Homo sapiens: one gene and its partners. The protein of the gene in region 2 purifies or fractionates together with the protein of the main gene of each other region. This does not show direct contact. Each region holds a gene or a part of one and is shown on either strand. Other genes may lie near its edges.

The links.
Region 1: the proteins of HSD17B4 (region 2) and HACD3 fractionate together in Homo sapiens (co-fractionation; one large-scale study listed by BioGRID). This does not show direct contact.
Region 3: the proteins of HSD17B4 (region 2) and GRHPR fractionate together in Homo sapiens (co-fractionation; one large-scale study listed by BioGRID). This does not show direct contact.
Region 4: the proteins of HSD17B4 (region 2) and PLEK purify together in Homo sapiens (co-immunoprecipitation; one study listed by IntAct). This does not show direct contact.
Region 5: the proteins of HSD17B4 (region 2) and AFG1L fractionate together in Homo sapiens (co-fractionation; one large-scale study listed by BioGRID). This does not show direct contact.
Region 6: the proteins of HSD17B4 (region 2) and LARS1 fractionate together in Homo sapiens (co-fractionation; one large-scale study listed by BioGRID). This does not show direct contact.
Region 7: the proteins of HSD17B4 (region 2) and TYSND1 purify together in Homo sapiens (co-immunoprecipitation; one study listed by IntAct). This does not show direct contact.

The regions. Positions count from the first base shown.
Region 1 is NC_000015.10:65,554,463-65,557,962, reverse strand, and holds part of HACD3 (very-long-chain (3R)-3-hydroxyacyl-CoA dehydratase 3), read right to left. Parts: intron 3,077-3,500; coding exon 3,003-3,076; intron 1,225-3,002; coding exon 1,060-1,224; intron 1-1,059. UniProt on the Homo sapiens protein: Catalyzes the third of the four reactions of the long-chain fatty acids elongation cycle. This endoplasmic reticulum-bound enzymatic process, allows the addition of two carbons to the chain of long- and very long-chain fatty acids/VLCFAs per cycle.
Region 2 is NC_000005.10:119,528,997-119,532,496, reverse strand, and holds part of HSD17B4 (peroxisomal multifunctional enzyme type 2), read right to left. Parts: intron 2,604-3,500; coding exon 2,517-2,603; intron 1,232-2,516; coding exon 1,093-1,231; intron 1-1,092. UniProt on the Homo sapiens protein: Bifunctional enzyme acting on the peroxisomal fatty acid beta-oxidation pathway.
Region 3 is NC_000009.12:37,421,523-37,425,550, reverse strand, and holds the start of GRHPR (glyoxylate reductase/hydroxypyruvate reductase), read right to left. Parts: upstream 2,801-4,028; coding exon 2,718-2,800; intron 707-2,717; coding exon 576-706; intron 1-575. UniProt on the Homo sapiens protein: Enzyme with hydroxy-pyruvate reductase, glyoxylate reductase and D-glycerate dehydrogenase enzymatic activities. Reduces hydroxypyruvate to D-glycerate, glyoxylate to glycolate, oxidizes D-glycerate to hydroxypyruvate.
Region 4 is NC_000002.12:68,371,782-68,375,281, reverse strand, and holds part of PLEK (pleckstrin), read right to left. Parts: intron 1-3,500. UniProt on the Homo sapiens protein: Major protein kinase C substrate of platelets.
Region 5 is NC_000006.12:108,522,054-108,524,277, reverse strand, and holds part of AFG1L (AFG1-like ATPase), read right to left. Parts: intron 1,982-2,224; coding exon 1,853-1,981; 3' UTR 1-1,852. UniProt on the Homo sapiens protein: Putative mitochondrial ATPase. Plays a role in mitochondrial morphology and mitochondrial protein metabolism.
Region 6 is NC_000005.10:146,155,151-146,158,650, forward strand, and holds part of LARS1 (leucine--tRNA ligase, cytoplasmic), read right to left. Parts: intron 2,646-3,500; coding exon 2,578-2,645; intron 2,479-2,577; coding exon 2,253-2,478; intron 1-2,252. UniProt on the Homo sapiens protein: Aminoacyl-tRNA synthetase that catalyzes the specific attachment of leucine to its cognate tRNA (tRNA(Leu)).
Region 7 is NC_000010.11:70,137,481-70,140,590, forward strand, and holds the end of TYSND1 (peroxisomal leader peptide-processing protease), read right to left. Parts: intron 2,662-3,110; coding exon 2,444-2,661; 3' UTR 501-2,443; downstream 1-500. UniProt on the Homo sapiens protein: Peroxisomal protease that mediates both the removal of the leader peptide from proteins containing a PTS2 target sequence and processes several PTS1-containing proteins.

The DNA of each region.
Region 1 (3,500 bases), on a different chromosome or scaffold from region 2:
GTGCTCAAAAAAAAAAAAAAAAACAGTCCCATAATGATGGCGCTTTCTCAAAAAGATACAAAAGCCAAATGAAAGATGGGCAGGATGAGGACATAACCAAAGGCCAGTTAGTGCCAAAGCTGGAAGAATTTGAGCAACAAAATAAATAATATTAGATTATAACTCAAAGTATAAAATAAATACCCATGTACTCACATGATATAAATGATTGAATAAATAAATGGGAGACAATAGACATGCATAATTATTCTCCTATGCAGAAGAATTCCAAATAAATTATGTAGATACTCCCTCCATCTAAAGGACAGGAAGCATAACTCCCTGCTCCTTAAATGTAGGCTACACATAGTGACTTCCTTCCAAGGAGAGCCAAGAGGAAAATAACCTTATGGTAGAGAAACCTGATAAGCGTCACCTCAAGCCAGCTAACCCATGGTTAATATCAACAGTGATGTGTCACGTTGACAGTATGTACTTTTTTTTTTTTTTTTTGAGACTCTCGCTCTGTTGCCCAGGCTGGAGTGCAGTGGCGTGATCTCGGCTCACGGCAAGCCCCGCCTCCCGAGTTCACGCCATTCTCCTGCCTCAGCCTCCTGAGCAGCTCCGACTACAGGCATGCACCACCACGCCCGGCTAATTTTTTGTATTTTTAGTAGAGACAGGGTTTCACTGTGCTAGCCAGGATGGTCTCTATCTCCTGACCTCGTGATCCACGCACCTTGGCCTCCCAAAGTGCTGGGATTACAGGCGTGAGCCACCGTGCCCGGCCGTATGTACTCTTGATATGATGTGATAAGAATTGCACTTTACTTCAGTGGTCTTCTCCTCAACATCTATCACCTTAGTCTAGTTGTAAGAGAAACATCAGACAGATTTCAACCGAAGGAAAGTCTATAAAATACATAGCCAATACTTCTTGAAAATCACATCACCAGGTCTTTAAATGAATTTGTAACTTTGTAGCTATTCTTTCAGACCGAGAGGTATCTGAAGTGGCCTGAATAACGTGGGTTCCCCATGATTTGTCCTCAATGGCTAGATCCTAGGATCCTTACTAACCTTAGCTCTGAGCTCCATTTCCGCATCAGATTCATCCAGCCAACGATCAAAGTCAGGAGCCAAAAACAGTGGTCGCTTTTCCTGCTTTGTGAGTCTCTCCCACCACTGACTCACTTTCTTCTGTACTGTAATGTTTACCTGCCTCTGGGTCAGTTTGTAAACAGGCTAGGAGAGAAAGTGAAAATGTGAGAATGCCCTCTTCTGTTCCCTGAAGCAGCACCATGCCAGGGGCGCCGTACATAGAAGCTGCAGGATATATTTATTCTCCTTCTTTCTCTGGTCCTGCAAGTCCTGATGCAAAGGGAACATCTAGACCAGGGGTCTCCAACTCCTGGGCCATGGACTGATACTGGTCCATGGCCTGTTGGGAATCGGGCCACACAGGAGGAGCTGAGTGGTGGGCAAGTGAGTGAAACTTCACCTATATTTAGACTCGCTCTCCATCACTTGCATTACTGCCTAAGCCCTGCCTCCTGTCAGATCAGCATTGGCACAAGATTCACATAGGAGCGTGAACTCTATTGTGAATTGTGCATGCAAGGAATCTAGGTTGCTCACTCTTTATGAGACTATAATGCCTGATGATCTGTCACTGTCTCCCATCACCCCCAGATGGGACTGTCTAGTTGCAAGAAAACAAGCTCAGGGCTCTCACTGATTCTACATTATGGTGAGTTGTATTCATTATATATTACAATGTAATAATAACAGAAATAAAGTGCACAACAAATGTAATGCATTTGAATCACCCTGAAACCATCCCCATTCCACCATCTGTGGAAAAAGTGCCTTCCACAAAATTGGTCCCTGGTGCCAAAAAGGTTGATCTAGACCAACGGCTGGCATGGAGAACTGGTAAGGACATAATGTCCTTCTCTGATTCCCCCAGTGAATGATACAGGAGGATATCAGGATAAGAAAGGCAAATAGTTCCTGGTTAGGCTGGAGGGAACTAGCATGAACCTCCTGCCACAGCCACATCATGCAAGGTACTATGTCCAATCACCCTCTCAAGGGTACTGCATCCAATTACCCTCAGCTTATAAATTTTCCTCCCATGAAAATGACTGTCCTGGCTCAGCAGACCCCGGTTTTAGAAACACCTGCATCAAGATCAGAACTGTATTGGATCAGTTACAGATTTTTTCACAGGGGTCAATTTGGGGAGTCTTCCCAACTAAACTCAAATTCTTATAGGCCATTCCAGCTCATTGTTTGTCTACATGTCCTGTCCCTTTTCTCCAAAGGAAGCTCCATGACAGGTTCTCTGCCCACTGTACCACTGGTTATTATTCATGCTTTCTCAAAACAACTGAGCACCTGCGCACGGAAATCAAGAAGCTCAAGCCACCAGAGCTAAGTGTAATTCCAGAAGCCAAAATACCCCATCTATTGGATTCTCTCCCTGCTTATGAGAGAAGCTTCCTCAGGCTCTAAGGGAAGGGAAGTTTTGATGATATCTGCAGCATTCTTTCTGAAGGCCAGCTGCCTTCACCCTTTCTGATTTCTATTTTTCTCACCTGCAACTGTGGCAAAGTCACATGAAAGTAACCCCTGGTGGGGGCTTCAACCACTCTATGTAACTCTGTTCTCAATGGGTGCCATATTCCTCTGCCATCACTAAAACCAGAGAATATCAGAGCTGGAAGGATCACTTAGTCCAGACCTTCATTTAACACATGAGAACACCAGAACTCGAAGAAGTTAAGAGACTTGTTCAAGATCACACTGCTAATAAATGGCAGGGCCCTGACTCAACTTGGGGTCTCTGACTTTCCCATTCCTCTGCAGCTAAAACCTGGGCTCTGTTCCAAATAAAAGAACTCTATTATTCCCCTTTGGTTTTTATCTTCTTCTCTCCACAAACCCTGCTCCCCATTTCACTAAACTACTGGTATTCATTTCCTAAAATGGGAAGGGAAGTGAGAAAGGAAAGAACATACCTCTGGTTTCACAAGGTCTAAGAACTCCAGGTGAAATTCATAGACATTGTCTCCTTTGGCACCATGTCCTTGAGCTATAAAGAAAGAAATGTGGGTTACTGCAAACTTGAGCAGAGCAAGGCCATCCAAAAGCCAGCTTGGTGCAGTTCTTTCCCAAGTATGCGAATATTACACTTTTTTTTTTTTGAGACAGAGTCTTGCTCTGTTGCCCAGGCTGGAGTGCAGTGGCATGATCTCGGCTCACTGCAAGCTCCGCCTCCCGGGTTCATGCCATTCTCCTGCCTCAGCCTCCCGAGTAGCTGGGACTACAGGCTCCCGCCACCATGCCCAGATAATTTTTTTTATTTTTAGTAGAGACGGGGTTTCACCGTGTTAACCAGGATGGTCTCGATCTCCTGACCTTGTGATCCACCCGCCTCAGCCTCCCAAAGTGCTGGGATTACAGACATGAGCCACTGTACCTGGCACGAATATCATACTTGATTGTAGCCAAAAGGC
Region 2 (3,500 bases):
TCAATTTCAGAACCTTTTTTTTAAAAGGCAGCCATACTATTTTCTAAAACTATGCTTTCTACATGGCTTTTAGCACTCATTCCAACATATACAGAATCAGGCTAGTTATTATGTGTTATTGACTATACTAGAAGCTAGAAATAGACAAACTGCAGCCATTTCTCAGGATTAAGCCCAAAGTCAAATGAGAGAAAACATACAATTATAAATGACCATAATACAGTAAGATAACTGTGACAAGCAACAGACTCTGCTGAAAGGGAATTCAGGGACTTACTGCTCTACCTCCTATCCATTTTCATCTTTTCAACCTAATTGAAGAATCTCTAGGAAAATAAAGGTGAGGTTAGAATATTCCATAATTAAAGTGTGTGCCATGATTAAGGATGTGAGTTACACAGCAGATGCAAAAGATCTGACAGAATATTTTTTCTTTATTCTTTTTATCCTCTAATTTCTCTTTCTTCACAAAATGGTACCAGGGTCTCTTTGGACCTCCACATCAGTGAAAAGAAATATGACTGCTTTCTTTCTGCGGCAAGATGTTTTATATTGGGTGCATGGCACTCTAATAGATAATTTCCCTAGATTAGATAAACAAACACCTTTGACCATAATCTGTATATATCTAGAAAATAGTGATTTTATATTGATAATTAAGATAATCCAAATTATTGTTTTGGTATGAATAAAATAATTTTGTAACTGTCAAATATCATGACTTAAAAATACTTCATTTTGACTTGATGAATTTGCCTTATGTTTAAGAAGCTGAAGATTAGATAAAGATGCATATAGCCAAGATGACTGTTTAAACTACTTTCAAGGATTACAATGAAATCTTAAAACAGGTTATTTTCATTTCAATTGATTCCCTACATCTCTTACACACACACACAAACACACACACACACACACACACACACACCCCCCTTTGGACATTCCCAAACCTATTCATTCCCACGGGAAAAGAAAAAAAACTTACCTAAAAAGGTAAGATTTACCTACCTTCAAAGGTCTTTAATTGTTAAAAAGATACTTTATTTACTAAGAATTACCTTAGAATATTATAAAATCAGGGCTATAACTTACTCCACTTAGCCCCAATATTTCCGCCTTTGGTTATATGCCACTCAAATACAGCATTTACTTTCTTCACCACCTCAGGCCCAATATCCTTTAGGCGGCGTCCTATTTCCTCAAATACAAAGGTACTCTGAAGCTTCCCGCCCTAACAACGACAACAAAATAAACTTTAAAAGTTCTGTAAAAATAACTCATGGAGAAAAGTGATTATAAAACATGTGCAAAAAAAAGATTTTTTAAAACTCTGTACATAAGTCAGTTTTCTTCATACAATGTGTCTTTCATACTTTCTTATTTGTATACATCACTCAGAACCTCAGTCCTCTTAATAACAGGATTTTACTTTTATTAGAATTCAGAAATAATATTTTAAAAGAAAAATAGGAACTGGACAACCTATGTTTTAGCTAACTTTAGAAAGATCCTGATCAAATTAATCAACTTCTATGGTCTCATTTTTTTTATTTATAAAATAATACTAAATTACATGAAGTCTGAATTTCTTTACAGCTCTAAAACTTAAGTTTTGGGTTTTTTTTGTTTTTTGTTTTTTTTTTTTTTTTTTGAGACAGACTTGTCGCCCAGGCTAGAATGCAGTAGTGCAATCTTGGCTCACTGCAACCTCCACCTCCCGGGTTCCCGTGATTCTCCTGCTTCAGCTTCTTGAGTAGCTGGGATTACAGGAGCCTGCCACCAAGGCTGGCTAATTTTTGTATTTTTAGTAGAGATGGAGTCTCACCATGTTGGCCAGGCTGGTCTTGAACTCCTGACCTCAAGTGACCTAACCACTTCAGCCTCCCAAAGGGCTGGGATTACAGGCGTGAGGCACCGAGCCCGCTCTAAGTTTTTTTTTTTCTTAGACTATTCTTAAGGGATTTTAATTTTCAGTCAGTTATATGGTTTATGACAGACAATTAAAGATCATGGGTATCGAAACCTCAACATTACAAAGTTAATATTTCAGAGATAGAATATAAACATTTTTATCAAAAGTCTCAGCATGCTAATAAATAATACAATGTTTTAATAAATTATACACGCTGCTGGTTTATATATTTGCATACAAAACTTTATATAAACCTTTAAATCAAGAAAAAGGTACAGGATATTCAACTTTTTAATCTATTTTTCTCCAAAACGCTGTTTGCTTAAGATTCTGATTAAACAACTGATTTATTTATTCTAAAACTAGAAAATTATGTTCTCTTGAAAGATATCCTAGTATCCTGCAAAACGAGTTTTTTAAAGTTCATAAATTGCCAGAGTATTCCTTCTATTCCAAGCTGTTTTGAATTAATGTTTTTCACTTCAAGAATTAAGAATAGTTTCATGGTTGTTAATTTTCTAACGTAGCCTAACCACTCTTAAAGTCACCTTAACTGAAATTCCTAAATGAGGAAGTGGCTTGGATACTAATTTTTATAACCTACCTCAGAGGGTGTCTTAGCTGAAGTACCAGATGTTGGTGCAAGATCCACATATGCATTTGAAATGACAATGTCTCCAGTTTCTTGGACCTTAGGAGGAGAAGAAAAAAAAAAGATTTATTCTGATTACAATGGAAGTGTAATTTCACTGTGAAACAGTACAAAGTTTAAAATTTATTATTTTTGCCTCATATGAAAAAGAATATAATAATCCAGATAAAATAAAAGGCTGCTAAAGTAAATGTCAAGATGAACAAACATAAAGGCTTTCTGATTTAATACAACTGTTACTAAACCTGGCTTTATAATCAGCTGGAGCCCTTTAAAACAAACAAACAAAGAAACCCTATGAGGTCCCATCCCCCAAAATTCTAATGTAAATACACTGATAGAGACTGGGCCTTGGTATTTTGGGCATTTTTTGGGGGGGAAGTGGGGATCAGGGGATGCACTCTTATAAACAGAATTCAGTCCATGCTGAATCCTTATAAATAGTAAAAGGCATAGCACAATAGCCACATGAGGTAATGGTACTCAAAGTACATTTGTTCTGCTAATATAGAATAAAATTGGCTAGGAACAAATCATAATAGTGTTTTTTAAGTAGTAATTCCAGGTCTTATTTCAAGAGGAAGTGTACACAGCATGAACTAAATGTCTAAATAGGCTTTTATCAAAATAGTCATTAAAGGAATTCAAATTCTAATTCCCAGTCCTTCATTTCAAATTATTCCAATGGCTATTCTTTCATAAAAATTGTTATTGCTACAAATGTATAGGATAAGTTTCTAAAGTTTAACATAGCGTTTATTAAAACTTTGATTTTTAACAATCAAGAAGATCATTCTCTTGACTACATCTCATCATATTTTGGAGGAAAAAAGATCTTTCAAGTAATTTGTTCACTTTACTTCAAATTACATACATTGAAAAGCATGGAAAGAGATAATTAATGAACAAAATGCACTTCAGTAAATTACTTTATTG
Region 3 (4,028 bases), on a different chromosome or scaffold from region 2:
CCTCTCCTGCAAGCAGGACACCACAAAGCTTCCAGGCCAAGGCCAGGATGTGGGGCGGCTCAGCACTGACTCACAAGGGTCCCTTCCCATCTGGCAGCCTCTGAGTCTGAACCTTTTCTCAAAACTGTCACAACAGCCTCACAGGGGGAGGTTTATTCTTCCATGGGCTGAGACCCGTGGCTGCGGTTGAGGAAAGACATCCTGCTGGGGCTTGGCACTGAGCTAGGTCCTCCCTCATACTACGCACACGCCCAGAAGGGGCAGGGTCTTGCTGGAGGTCACAGAGCAAGGTTGTGGCAGGGCTGGAGAACCCAGGGCCTTGGATGCACTTCCCCACACCCACAGTCTCCACACCGCGGTCTTTGCCCTCCTAGGGTCCCCCGCCAAGGGGTTCACAGCAGGAGGGAGGGGCAGTGCCTGTGCCAGAGCAAGCTATCTGCCCGCTCGGGCCTGGTATCGCAGGAAACGCCCTCAGAACCCAGACAGCACTGCAGAGCAGCCAGGAGCCAGCAGCACAGGCTGAGGGGCCCACAGGGCCAAGCCACCCTCAAGTCCCCTGCCCACCCAGTGTGCACCTGCAGCATCCAGGATCCTCTTGTCCACGTGGTCGGAGAGGAGGCAGAGCAGGCCGTGGGCCCCCGCCACACCTCGCTCTAGCTCCTTGGCAGGGATGGGCTCATCCGAGTCCCACTGCTCCACCTCACAGCTGCGGGGAAAGGGAGGCCCTCAGGAGAAGCAGGAGCCGCACACCTGTCCCCGCCCCTCCCAGCTGGGAATCCTGGCCTCTGATGGCCCTGGCCTCAGGCTGCCCGGGGCTGGCTGAGGGGAGGCAGGGTCAGGCAGGGGTGGTCTCAGAACTGTCCCGAGACAGCAGGTGACAGGTGAAGGGCTGAGGGGCCCCCCAGCAGAGCCTAAGCTGCAAGGGGGAAGGCATGGGGACAGCTCTCAGGTCAGCACAGAGAAGAGCTTTCCCACATTCACAGGGGCTGGGCGGCCAAGCAGGCGGCCAACTGCAGGGAAGGCCCGTGGGGGGCAGGGTGTGCCTCAGGTGGGGGGCCTGGATTCAATGGCCTGTTGCATCTCTTCCTGTCCGTGGAGTCCATGAAATAGAAAACTCTCATAGTTGGACTGGGCCAGGAAAGATAAGGTCAAGGCCACCCAACGCTTCCACGGCAGCTCACAGCAACCAGATATTTGTCCCAGTGATGCACGGTGCCTCCTGGCCCTTGCCATGGAATTCAGTACAGTCAGCACGTGTGGAGCCTCTATGTGGCAGGACACAGGATAGCTACTTGCACCTCCTGACTGAGCCCAGGGCACTGACCACCTTTCATCCACCTCCCCATGAGCAGGGTACAGCGTGAGCTACTGTTACCATGGGCGCGGTTGCTGCCTTCCACCTTCTCCTGCTCAGTACAAAGTGGGTCCTTGGCAAAGGTTTTGTTGCAGTGAACAAAATTTGAAAATCTCATATGCCCCTAGAACTGGCTGCTGAGGCTGGATTGCATCCTCTTCCTATCTAACATTGGAAACACAAACCTGATCAAATGCAGTGATCAGACAGCAGTCAGACACTTCTGAGTACAAGCCCCAGCTCCTCCACCTGGGAGCTGCATGGCTTTGGGAAGAAACTTAACCCTAAGTCCAGCCTCCAGTTTTTAATCTGTGCAATGGGAATTATAATACTGACTTCACAGTGCTACCAGGATTAAAAGTTTATGTATATGAAGCACCTGGCAAGGTTGGCCCACAAAAAGGGTTCCATTTAGCAAGGGTGGGCCAGGTGCAGTGGTTCATGCCTGTAATCCCAGCACTTTGGGAGGCTGAGGTGGGAGGATCCCTTCGTACAGGAGTTCAGGACCAGCCTGGGCAACACAGTGAGACCCTCGTCTTTGAAAAAAATAAAAAATTAGCCAGGCATGGTAGTGCATGCCTGTAGTAGTCCCAGCTACTTGGGAGGCTGAGGTGGAAGTATCTCTTGAGTCCAGGAGGTTGAGGCTGCAGTGAGGTATAATGGTGCCACTGCACTCCAGCCTGGATGAGAGTGAGACCCTGTCTTAAAAATTAAAGGGTCCTCAGGCCAGTCATGGTGACTAACACCTGTAATCCCAACACTTTGGGAGGCTGAGGCAAGAGGATTGCTTGAGCCCAGGAATTTGAGACCAGCCTGAGCAACAGAGTGAGACCCCCATCTCTACAAAAAAAAAATCAGAAAATTAGCCGGTAGTGATTGTTTGCGCCTGTAGTCCCAGCTACTCGGGAGGCTCAGGTGGGAGAACTGATTGGGCCCAAGAAGTCGAGGCTGCAGTAAGCCACGATCGATCGAGCCACTGCACTCCAGCCTGTGCAGCAGAGTGAGACTGTCTCAAAAAAAAAAAAAAAAAGATAAGTAAATATAAAGAAGAAGAGTCATCAAAGCCCCCTGCCAAACGTCCAAGGGCCTGGTCAGTGACCGCCATGTCCCTGACCCCACATGTCCTGTGGGAGCGTGGAGAATTAGCCTGGACCTTGCCTCAGGGGCAATCTCCCCTCTCCAAAGCCGGAACTGCAGGTCCCAGCGTCGTCTTAAGAGGAGAACTGGGCCCCAGAGAACTTTCTCCGAGACTCCCCAAAACTCCAAGCCTGCCCCAGCCGGCCACAAGGCCCAAACGCCCCGCCCGGCTCTCCGGTCCCTGGGACCGCCCTGCTCCCTCCTCCACGGCGCGCGAGGCTCTTACTCTGCCGCCCGGGCGAGCGCGACCCTACCCTCGGCGGGTATCCTGCGGGTGACGAACACCTTCATGAGTCGCACCGGTCTCATCCGCAGTGCAGCCGCCGACCCGGACCTGGCAGTACAGAAGCTGGCCCGGGAATGTAGCTGGGCCGGGGCGGGGCCAGGCTGGAGTGGGCGGGAGAGACGTCGCGCGCGGCGTGCGCAGGGGGTGTGGCTTCGCGAGAGGGAGCGCCGGGTTGCGGCTGAGCGGTGACTGTGCGTGCTCGGGGAGTGACAGTAACAGTGACCCTACACAGTGTCCTTGTGTGTGTGTGGGGGGGTGCGCCTCGTGCCACTGGGGAATCAGGGCCCCGGGGGAGAGGGGGCAGTATCCCGTCCAAGGCCTCATGGGAGCCCTGCTTTTTCTACACGCTCAGGGTCCTGTTTCCACAGGCTCAGGCCTTAAGAGACTGAAAGCCCCCACTTTTTCTGTCTCTTGGGTTGGCCCAGGGTAGAAACCCAGGTTCCAGGCTGTGAGGAAGTCCAGGACACACAGAGAGGTCACGTGTAGGTGTTCAGGCCAACAGCACAGCCAGGGGCCCGGCTCACAGCCACCGTCAATGACCAGAGGTATGAGTGAGGAAGCCTTCGGGTGACTCCAGGCCAACTCCCACCTGACTACAGCTAAAACTGCAAGAAAGAGCCTTTAGGAGAATCACTGGCTGAGCCCAGTCAACCCCGGAACCATAAGAGATGATAATGCACTGACTGCTGTTGCTCTAAGCCGTTCAATTTTGGAGTAATTCTTTATGCAGCAATAAATAAGTGATACGCTATGTGTGCGAAAGCCAGAAGCCATAAGAGTACAACTAATTCTCCATTGAAAAATTAACCGTACCATCCTGAATGCATCTGATCTTGGAAACTAAGCCTGGTTAGGGCTTGTATGGGAGACTGCCTGGAAATACCAGGTGCCTGGAAATACCAGGCTTATGTTTATCTTAAAAAAAAAAAATTAACAAAATCATAAGACAACAAACCGGGAAAAATACCATATATTTGCAACTCATTTTATAGACAAGGGGTTGATTTACTTATTGCACAAATAGTTCCTAAGACAAAGATGCCCAGCTTATCTGAATAAGCAAAGGATATCAATGGACAGTTTATAGAAAAGAAAATGGCCTTTAAATGTATGGCTGGGCGCGGTGGCTCATGCCTGTAATCCCAGCACTTTCGGAGGCCGAGGCAGGCGGATCACTTGAGGTCAGAAGTTTGAGACCAGCCTGGCCAACATGGTGAAACTCTGTCTGTACTGAATATACAAACATTAGGT
Region 4 (3,500 bases), on a different chromosome or scaffold from region 2:
CAGGAAAATGCAGATTCAAATCACAATGAGATACCTCTACACACCTGCTAGAGTACCTAGCATTTTCAAAGTCAGAGAAGAATAAGACTTGACAAGGAGGTAGAATAACTGGAAGTACCAAACATAGCTGGCAGGAGTGCAGAATATCACATCCAGTGCAGAAAAAATATCTGGTGGTTTTATGCTAAAGCTAAACACATATATGTCCTTTGCACCAGCAATTTCACTCCTGGGCAAAGATCTGAGAGAAATGAATGCATATTGTCATAAAGGTTTCATCAAGAATGTTCATGACACCTTTATTCATCATAGCCAGAAACAAAGACTAACCCAAATGCCCATCAACAGGAGAAGGAATAAGTAAACTGTATAATATAATATATAAATCCATTATTAACACAGTAAATGTATACTATGGAAAACAACCTAGCAATTTTTAAAAAATGAACCGCTAGTACCTGGAACATTATAAATAAATCTCATAGATGTTGAGTGAAAAGCAAACAGGCAAAACATGTGCTTAGAGTATGATTACATTCATATGACGTTCAACAACAGGCATAGCTTATGAGAAAATATTACAATAATGGTTACCGACGATGGGAGTATAGACTAGGAAGGGAACAATGGAACTTTATAGCATACTAGAAATGTCTCTGTCTTTATCTGTGTGTTGATTACATGAGGTATAGGTATGTAAAAAATTATGACACCCTTCATGTACCTTATTGTAAGTTATCCTTCAATTAAAAAACAAAGTTGTTAACTCCAGGTCCTGTTAGTTAACTCCATGGAGGGGTATACAGTGATTATAGTAACACCACCCTTCAAGTTGCTTCTATAGAAGGAAACTATTCCACATTAGTTACTTCTCTCACTTAATCACTGGAAAAACAGCATATTCATGCAATGAATTGTCCTCGATTGAATCATGGATTCTTTTCAAAGCCGCTATGCAGAATATTATTGAGTGATCTGGCATCATTTGAATGTAAAAGGTGTATTAGATAAGGTCATTTTATTAGTAATAAATTTCTTAGATGTGATAATGGCATTGTGATTATATAGGAAAATGTCCTTTTTCTTGGAAGATGTATGTTGAAGTATTTTGGAGTGAGGTAGCGTGATGTCTGCAAATTACTCTCAACTATCTCAACCTAATATGATATGTGTGTTTATTTATACAGAAATTCAGAGATAGGGAGAGACAAAGCAAATGTGCCCATCCATTATCAATTGATTAATCTAGGTAAAGGCTATATGAATAATGGTACTAGTTTCCTCATTTTTCTGTGGGCTTAACTTTTAAAATAACTTGGGAAAATTATTAAATGAATGAGTAACATATGACTCTGCTATGTATTAAAATTTAGAATATACTTTTAGTGAAATACATAGACAAATCTATTTAATAAAAAATTTTAAAAATACCTGGAAATAAGAAAAGAAAGACATGTTCTCAGAGCTAGAAATGAAAAGTTGCACTAGATGATTGCCAGAATCCCTTTTAAACCTAACATTTAATATTCAACCTCAGGAATAGCTGAGATTATTAACTGCCATCATCACTCAGGGCTTTTGACTTTGAAATTGGGATGCATCAGTAGCGATAAGCTGGCATTGCATGCCTTCAGTAGACAAAGCCTCTGGAGCCAACTGTCCAATATGAGTTTGTGCTTTTCTTTTTTTTTTTTTATTTTCTTTATTATACTTTAAGTTTTAGGGTACATGTGCACAACGTGAAGGTTAGTTACCTATGTATACACGTGCCATGTTGGGATAGCATTAGGAGATATACCTAATGTTAAATGACGAGTTAATGGGTGCAGCACAACAACATGGCACATGTATACATATGTAACTAACCTTCACGTTGTGCTTTTCTAAATCAAGTGCAGCCTCCGGGGTCTGACTCTGAGGAGGATGTGTCATTTGGGATTCAGGGTCATTATGCACAATGAAGAGGCTGATACTTTATGAAACAAGAGAAATCTGACCACTTACAAAGCTTAAACATCCTTCCAGGCCTGATAGTGCTGAGTTAGGTCAGGATGATGGAATTTGAGGAGGTTTTTCTCTCCTCTTCACCACTACTGCAGCTACCAGTTTCTCACTCGGGTAACCTGGCAGCACCTCTCCTTGACCATTCCTAAATTTTTCCTTTTCTGGCCCCAACCCACTTGATGCTCACCCAAGAGCAAACCTGGAAGTGTGATTATGGAATGTCCAAATGACAGAGAAATTTAGGATCATCTACCAACACTGTCACCATATTGATAAAAAAAAGTGGAGGCCCAGTTAAGTGATTGGCCTACCACATCTGAACAATTAATGTTAAGTGATTGGCCTAGTACATCTGACCAGTTAATGTAGAATCCATGTCTCCTGATTCTCAATTTTATGTTTTTTCCCTTCCCCTCAGATGTCATTTTCATTTTGGTTCTTGTATAACACTGAGTCATTCTGGAATCTGTATCGATTTCTTTAGACCACTTAGCTAGCTATTTCACTTCAATGGAGATATATATACACACACACACATATATATCCATATGCTGTGTGTATGTGTGTCTGTGTGTGTGTGTGCATGTGTGTGTGTAGCATATATGTGTTTTCACCCATTATATGCCAAAACCTGTACATGTCCACAATGGGATGCTGAGTCAGATTTGAAGTTTTCTGGTAAATACCTGTTCATCATCATGGGACTGGTATAATTTAGCACCTAAGAGTCTGACATTGCATGACATCAAAAGAAGAAATCATAAAGAACGGCAGATTTGACCATATTAAAAATAAACTTCTCGGCTGGGCGCAGTGGCTCATGCCTGTAATCCCAGCACTTTAAGAGGCTGAGGTGGGTGGATCACTTGAGGCCAGGAGTTTGAGACCAGCCTGGCCAACATGATGAAAGCCAGTCTCTACTAAAAATATACAAAAATTAGCTGGGTGTGGTGATGCACACCTACGGTCCCAGCTACTTGGGAGGCTGAGGCAGGAGAATCACTTGAACCCAAGAGGTGGAGATTGCAGTGAGCCTAGATCACACCACTGCACTCCAGCCTGGGCAACAGAGCAAGACTTCATCTCAAGAAAAAAAAAAATGAACTTCTCTATATTTAAAAAACTGCAACAACTGAAAAGCAAATGAAAATGCATAGATATTTGTATCATCATATGATTAAAAATTAATATCCTTAATTCTTTAAACACTTTAGAACCAATAAGAAATATATCAACACTCCCAATTTTTTAAATGAGCAAATAATATAAATAAGCAATTCTCAAACGAATAAAAGCTGGGTCCAATAAAACATAATTGATTGCTTCAACTGCAATCAAAGAAATGCAAATTGAAATTAAATAAGATACAGCCTTTCTCTTTAATAATATTTTGTAAAGACTTATAAGGTGTGGGAAATGAGCATGTGGGAAAAAAGGAGCTCTATGAGTCAGCAATTTGATGTGGGCTGTCAAAAAAAAACTAAACTCGTTGTGGT
Region 5 (2,224 bases), on a different chromosome or scaffold from region 2:
CAAAGGAATGTGAAAAGTAAAAAGCTAAGATCTAAAGAATAAAGTTAAACATTTTATATTCACTGAGTTCAAATCAATGGTTCTGTTGTGAATTTATCTTCAACTTCATTCACTGAGTTAAATGAATCAATTTTTAAAACAATCTCTTTTTTTTAAATAGTAAGAGTAAGAGACAGTGTGTTATAAAATATAGTATATGAGTTTTGTAGTTGTAAACTGTGAATCTCAGGTCAAGCTACTTAACTTTCCCAAGACTCAGTTTTCTTATTTTTAAACAGGGGTTATAATATTCACTTTCTAAGACTATTTTTTTTAACTGAGCTAATGTAAATATATAGCATTCAATCCAGCACAAAGTGGTTATTTCCCATCCTTTCTCCCTATTACGTAACCTCTTTGAAATTACTGTGTTTCACTTCAATAAAAATATCTTTAAACCACATTTTATTTACAGAAGGCTTGATTTAAACTCTTCTCTCGGCTTGGGTACTCATCCATCTACCTGCTTGCCTTAATTAGGTTAATATCTAAAAGAGACTATGTGATGGATTATTGACTAAGAAATTAAATAGGGCCATGCTGTGCCACACTACCCCTGCCAGGAGATGGCTAGAGTGGCCAAGATATAAAAAATAAAAATAATAATAAATAGAAAATAAATAGGTTCAAAGAGCTTACTTATGTTGACCATTGTATTCATTGGACTGACTCACCTATGCCTTACCTTCCCCCAAATGCTTAATTTTCACAAGATTTTGTGGATTTTATATTTTTTCTGTTTTTCACACTCATCCACAGCCGAAGATCCACTTTGTGACAATAGTTAGTAAAGCCAGGTTTTACTCAAAGAAGCAAAAGATGAGCTCAGTGAAGGACAAATCAGATTTCCTGTGAAGCAGGCTTGTCAGGCTTTCTTTCCTATTTCCTATTAGGTCCATCTCACGGCAGAGTTGGCGGCAAGGGCGGGGGCAGCATGCTGCAAGGAGAGCAAGTGTCTACAACAGTGAGAAGGAGCCTGCTGTCCACTGGGGTACGGCTGGCCTCATGTGAGCGGGAGTCTCCTCTGCTGTTGGAGTGCCTACGACTCTGACACCCACCCCCCCGCCCACACTCTCTCACTGGTCCCCATTCCTGGCTGCAGAGTTTGTAGCTCTGCCTGCAGATCTGCCTGTTGGCTGGAATTTGACACTTGCTCCTTATTTGATCCCATCATAATTTTCTATTTTTTTTTAGAAAACTTTGTGACCACTTGAGATCAAGTCCTGCCTACTAAACTTGATCTCAGGGTTAAAAACATATTCTTCCATTATGTAGAAATCTGAAGGCCTGGGAGATTTACTGTAATTCATAACCAAAAAAAAAAACCACATATAAGCCCATATTCTAAAATATTATCCCTTTTAGTTTATATCAGATTGGAAAACTGTCTTTGTTTTGAATTGAAACATAGGGCATTCTTCCCCCATTATAAAAGATGTATTTCTAACATGCCACCACCATGCAGCCAAAGCTTGAAGGTATCCAGACGTCTTGCATTTACTTGTGCATTCAAGGTTCATTCAGGTGGTTTAATGTGAAGCTAAAATGTCTGGTCCTACATTCATCTTCAGGAATGAGATGATTTTAATTTCATGGTGCAGAAATAAGGCCAAATAAGAAAAAGCAGACCTAAAAAATGTTAAGTGTTTAACTTACTAATCCACTAGATCCTTGAGAGCAATTTTAGATTAAAATGGTCCAGAGGACAAAGTGCATAATTAATGATGAGAAAATGATTCCTTCAAGTCCCACAATAAGGAGTTCTGCCTGCGTTAACCATTTGTCTAGAGTTTTATTTATGCAAAAGTGGCAGTTACTTCTTGGTTCTGTCTCCTTCATTCCAGTACTGTTCAGTCTGCATTTCCGTGAGTCGGGAAATTGTGCGCTGAAATGCAAAGATTTCCTCTTCTCCGGTAAACATGGAGAGTCCTTCTGCTGAATCCTGGTTATAAAACAAAGAAATTAAAATAAAGCTATCACAAATGAAAATTTACAGAACCTAAGTATAGGTTTAAAAAAACTTTTTAGGCTTACCGGTTTAGATTATGCCTTTTTTTATAACTTTTTTTTTCCATATACAATCTCTTAAATGAGACTAGAGAGTCAACCAATTTAAACTGATAGGCAGTAAACACATCAAATTATCAGAGAGAAAACTTAAAAGGGAAAACTTTCTCCAAAAGTG
Region 6 (3,500 bases), about 27 Mb from region 2:
CCGGAAAAATAATTTTTAATAATTATAATAACTAAATCTGTCAATATTATGACATGAGTACACTAATACATTGTTTGTGACATTGTACTCCTTGAAGAAAATATAGGAATCCACAGCAAAAGCCACAAAATGTTCATGTAACTCAGACTCAACAACAACTAATTATTTTTTCTTAAACAAGTCTACCCAATGCTGAGTTAATTATACTAGGAAAGCCTGGAAACAACTAAAGCTTTCAATGATAGAAAAAATGATTTAACAAAATATGTTACAAGAACAAGAATGGGTACTATACATCTATTTAAAATAGTAGTTATGAAGACAAAGTAAAAGGATAGTTCTAATTTCACTTGAAAAAATCCAAAAGATTAAGCAATTTTAGACCCAAATTCTCAGATGGCAACAAAGAATTTGCAGCTTCTTGCTCTAGCTAAGGAACACACTTTTCCTTTCCACATAATTCCCACCCACCCCTCTTTATTCATATATGTACTTATAACCTGCCTTTATAGAATTTGCAGTCATATGGATGACAGCTAAATATTATAACCATTTTAAATGTTGAAACTATTTTGCAATTTATAACATCCATGTCCCTCACGCCAGAATTTGCTCAAATTAACAGGGAGAAAAGTTGCATTAAGAATAGGAAAACATGTATGTCCCTAATACTGTTCCCAAGAACTTCTCAGACAAAATTCCAACATTAGGAACTAAAGAGATGTGGCAGTGCTGCTTTTAAAAGAAAAAGGCAGGAAACAATTCAAATATCCATTAATAGAGAATGGTTAAGTAAATTGTGGTACAACCAAACAATGAAATACTATGTAGCTATAAAAAATAAGAATAAAGAAGCTGTTTATGTACTGACAAAATGATTGCCAAGATACAAATTAAAAAGCAAGATGTGGTACAATGCATATAAAGTATATTGCCATTTGTGTAAAAACAGAGGGACAAAGAGTATGTGTGTATTCGCTTGTGTATACATGAAATATTACCAGGATACACAAGACACAGATATTACTAACTACCTCTAGAATGGGGAACTTTTGTATCTTTTTGCGTTTTTTGAATTTTGGGACTTGTAAATATACTGCAATCAAAGTATTAAATAAGGAATAAAATAGTTCAATTTAAAAGAATTGAGATGGTACTCTACTCATATTTTTCTTTTTAAAAAATTATTTAAGATACCAAAGATCAGCATTCACTAAATGGAATTAAACACACTCAGAAATATTGATAATACAGTAGATAAGGCTGGGTACAGTGGCTTACGCCTGTAATCCCTGCACTTTGGGAGGCCGAGGTGGGTGGATCACCCGAGGTCAGGAGTTCAAGACCAGCCTGGCCAACATGATGAAACCCTGTCTCTACTAAAAATACAAAAAATTAGCTGGGCGTGGTGGCCCGCACCTGTAATCCCAGCTACTCAGGAGGCTGAGGCAGGAGAATCGTTTGAACTCAGGAGGCAGAGGTGCAGTGAGCTGAGATCGCGCCACTGAACACCAGCCTGGGCAACAAGGGCAAAACTGTCTACAAAAAAAAAAATAAAAATAAAATAAAGTAGATGAGCTGTGTAACCATCCATATTTAATTAATATCAACCAAGACTTTCTTCACATGAAAAAAAAAAAAGGCAGCTACAATTCCAAATTTAGTATTACCAGGAATTCAGGTAATAGTATTTTTAAAATAATATAATGACTAATGCAGCTATTAAATCTCTTGGGGAGGACTGCCTATATTTTTCAACCAGATATTTACCGAGTTGAAACCTAAAAATAAAATATGCTATCTTAATGATACAGTCATACAATGAATATTACACAACAATAAAAAAAGAACTATTCCTACAACATGTATGAATCTCACAAACATAATGTTAAGCAAAAGAAGCTAGACACAAAACAGTCAGACTACACAATTCCATTATGTAAAGTTCAAGAACAACAACTAATCTTTGGTGAAGTCAGAGCAGTGGTTACCTTTGGAGGAGAGAGGTGAGTACTAATGATATGGACATGAGAGAGCCTTCTGGAGTGCTAAAACTGTTCTATATCTTGATTTAGGTGGTGTTTACGTAAGTGTATATACATATGAAAATGCACCAAAACACACAAGACTTACACAGTTTACTGCATGTACACCTCATTTTTTAAGGTTGTAATGCTCTTTTCTCAATATTCATTGTTGAAATTTTCCTTGAAATTTACGCATTAAAATAAAAAATCTGCTATCCAACTTACCTCCCCCATTAATTCCTTAACAACAGGCACCACGCCATTGTCTTTGGTAAAGCCCTGGTATGACATATTCCTGGCTGCTTTTTGGGTACAGATGAATATATCACCATTCACCGTCTCAAATCCAATGTACTTCATATCAGGACGAACCCAACAATTTGTCTGCCCAAACATGGTCTCAGGTCTGAGAGTAGCAGCCACCAAGAAAATATTTTTACCTTTCAGGCCACTGAGAAAAAAAAACAAATATTGATGTAAAAACATGTCAACTCTGTAACAACTATCTGATGGTTCAGAAATGATAAAGCAATTACTCTGGCAAACCTACCTTAATTTAGATGGGTATGGCTCAAGCACCTTCAATTTGAGTAAAGTATATTCCTGAGGTCCAACACCCTAAGCAAATAAACGATACAAAAATTTGAAGGAAAAAAAAGACTTGCCTTAAACCTACTAATCTATGTGAGAGATCTGATTCAAGTCCCTAAAATGGGTTCTTGCATTATTAATTTTTTTTTGCAGAGAAGAGATTGCCAGTGGTGTGCTAACTATACCCACACAGAAGTCTAGTACGTTAGGAGAGATTTGGAGTAATCGCCCAAAATAGTGTTTGCCAAAATGAAGGTGAGAAGACACAATCAACCCTAATTCCATCCCAGGGCATGTCCCACATAGTAGTCATCAAAGGAAGACACTAGACCAGAGGTCAGAGATAATGTGCTTTCTAAACTTAGTTTGCTCCCTTACTAATGGTTAGACCCAAGGTAGTCATAATCTCTCTAAGCCTTTCTTTCCTTATTGGTAAAATAAGGATGTTGCGTCTCAGATAGGACTGTCCTGAGGAACACACAAGATAACAGATGAAAAATGCTTTGAAAAATCTACAAAGGATTACTGAAATCTAGGATATTGCTGCCATTGGCTATATTAAAACTTTACTGGGTCTTAAGTCTCTCAAATCTTTTAAAATTTTGATCAACTCTCACTTAGATAAGTTACATCAAAATTGAAGGCTGATTTTGAAAATATGTTCAAAGATGGTAATAAAAAATGATGCAATCATAGGGAATCATAAGTTCAGATGCTGGCATTGTCATTGATTTTTACTTTGCCATGGATTTAGCCAAATCACTTACTCTTGATTTATTCAAGTATTTCAGAGAATAATGTTAATAATGTGTTCTACAGGAATTAGAATGAACTTCTAGGCATGGCTAGAATTACTTTGGAAATAAGCAAGAAGGCACATGA
Region 7 (3,110 bases), on a different chromosome or scaffold from region 2:
CTCTCACAGCAAAGTCAGACCTCAGATCTAGGATTCTGCTACCATTAACTTACTGTAGAACTTCTCTTAAACTAGCCATGACCTCTGGACCCATTCCTAATCTGTAAAGGGAGGAACAACCATCCCAGGAGTGTTCTGTGATTGCCCCGTGTTTTAGGAAAAACTCTCCTCAAATCGTGTTTTCCCTCTACTCTCATGCCATCACAATCATCAACACAGAAGACTTCAGTGACCAAATGTGTGTGGGGTTTCCCCACCAAAAGCAGTGGACATCAGCCGGGTGTCCTCTAATTCAGTTCCAACACTATCTACCCAGAGACATTGTCAGACCCCACAGGTTGAGGGTTCAGTCTCCAAGACTGCCCCCCTCAACCACACCAGGCACAAGTCTAGGCCTCCAGAACTTCTGACCAACTGGCTTCAAGTTGAGTTCCCACGACCTCCTTTTTGGGTTCAATTAATTTGCTAGAGTGGATCACAGAGCTCAGAGACACACTTACTTATGTTTACCGGTTTATTATAAAGGATATCGCAAAGGATACAGATGAAGAGATGCACATAGAGCAAGGAATGAGGGAAGGGGAAGGAGTGCAGAGCTTCCGTGCCCTCCCTGGGCACGCCACACTCCAGGAAGTGCCAGGTGTTCAGCTATCCAGAAGCTCTCTGAACCCTGTCCTCTTGGGTTTTTATGGAAGGTTCATGACATCAACATTCCTTCCCCTAGGATTGAGACCCTCTCATGGGAAGGTCTTTAGGACCCACTGTGAAAAAGGTGGGCGAACATTAGTGAAAGGATACCCAGAGGTCAGAGGCCTGTCCCAAGCCCTAACATACCCAGTATTCTAACAAAGACTGGAACAAGGACTATGAGAGTTACGAGTCAGGAATGCTGGATGAAAACCAATATATATCATAACACCACACCCAGCATTGGCACTCAGCACACAGGTGTTAGAAACAAGTTACTCCTAAGCACTCTTCCTGCGTGGCCTCCGCCCACAGCCGCCCCTCACAGGGCTTTCAGCCTGCCAGTAGAAATCACTCGAGGGCCCACACATGCAAGGCCCTGGGCACACGGCACAGTCCTGACTCAAAGAGTTGGCCTCAGCTCCTGGGGGCTGCCCTGGCCTCATTCACCCTTGAACTCCCCAACTGCCACCCACCTTAGGCATTCTTTAAGCATCTGCTGCCAGGTCAAGACCACCACCTTCCGGGACCTGCAAGCCCCACCCAGCTCTGACTGGCACATGACCAGCTATGAGGGCCAGTCTGGCAGGACCGTATCCCGTGAGCTCACACCCTGCTGAGAAAACAGCACAGAAAGGGTGTATTTCTGGGTTGGGCACAGTGGCTCACACCTGTAATCCCAGCACTTTGGGAAGCTGAGGCAGGAGGACTGCTTGAAACCAGAAGGCTGAAGCCAGCACGGGCAACAAAGCAATACCCCATTTCTACAAAAATAAAAAATTAGCCAGGCGTGGTGGTGCGCGACTGTAGTCCCAGCTATTCAGGAGGCTGAGGCAGGAGGTCTCCTGGAGCCCAGGAGTTTGAGGCTGCAGTGAGCTGTGATCGCAACACTGCACTCCAGCCTGGGTGAGAGAGCAAGACCACAGCTCTAAAGAAAAAAAAAAAAAAAAAAGGAAAGGGTGTGTTTCTTTGCCTGGTACTTGCCTATTCCCAGTTCAACTCCTGAAAAAAAGAAACAATTTGATATATAAATACAGAGGTTTTTCAATAGATCATGTTTATTCCCAAGCCCCAACCAGACATGTTCTACCCCTCAAGATCCCTGAGACCCAGGCTGTGGGCTGGAAAATGAAGGCACAGTGTCAAGAGCGCCCCTGTTGGCATATGAAGACCCAGGAGTGCTGACCTTCAGGGATCTGCCTGCACTGCCCATGGGCCTGGCACAGCAGGAGGCACTCCTGTTTCTGTCCCTTCTGTCTCTGGTCTTCAGAGCAAGGTTTCTGCTGAGATGCTAAGGAAGCTGAGTCCTTTGTCAGCCCTGACTCTGACTGAGAGGCAGACAGGAGCCAAGGCCCCATTGAAGCTCCAGGATGACGATGGCCCTCAGGGGAACAGACGCAAAACCAGGCACGGGCCTGCCTTCCAGCTGGAATCTACCTGTCAGGCCCAGAACTTCTGTGCAGTTGGAGTGGGCTCCCCAGAAGGAAAAACAATACAGCTGAGTCTAGTGCTAGGGGACAGAGAACTGGGGGCTCAAGAAAGCACCCCAAAACGGGCTGCCAGGTTAAGGATCCATGGGGCTGAAGAGAAGTTTGCCCCAGAGCCCAAAGCCCAGTCTGCAGTCAGTGGGTGGAGATGAGAGGCAGCCTGGGCCCCTGCAGGGGCTGGGCCCTGAATCCTGAGGCCACCGTCACCTCAACATCACTTCCTACAGCAGAAAAAGGTCACTCTTCTTTCCAAAGGTGGTAACACAGCCTCAGAGCTTGCTCCGCGGGGCCTCTGCCAGGGGCCGCTGCAACCGCCACACCACCCTGACTGGCTCAGCAGCGCGGTCCAGCTCACGGAGGCCACCTAGGTCTTGGGTCTGGCTGTACTGCTGCAGGGCCGGCTGGAGCACCGTGATGGGAATGCTGAAGTTCAGGTGGGGGTAGGTGGCCCCCGTATTATTGTCCCGGGTGTTGCTGGTGATTATGCCTGTTGAGGAGTCAGAGAGCAAAAGAGGATGTGAGCCAGGGGGCAGAAAGGCTGGAGAAGGGAGGAGGACCATCTCCACCCTGGAGCCCCCAGGGCCTGGTAGGGCTGGATACCACCCCACGTGGTGACAGACGCTGAGCTTCTAGACATGAACACCTGCTGCCCACACCCTTTCCTGGCTTTACGTTTTCTCCTTAACACTCTCAAAATCTAACACACTAGATAGTTCACTTATTTCACTTGTTATCTTTCTCTCGACCTAGTGTCAGCTCCATAAGGGCAGGACTTTGAGGTTTTGTTCATGCAGTCTCCCCAGTACCTGAAACAGTGCCTTGTGCCAAGTAGGCGCGCAACAAAGGCTTGTTGAATGAATGAATGAATGAATGAATGAATGAATGAATGAATGAATGAATCAGACCCACAGACATATTTTGTTTGGCCTGCTCGGT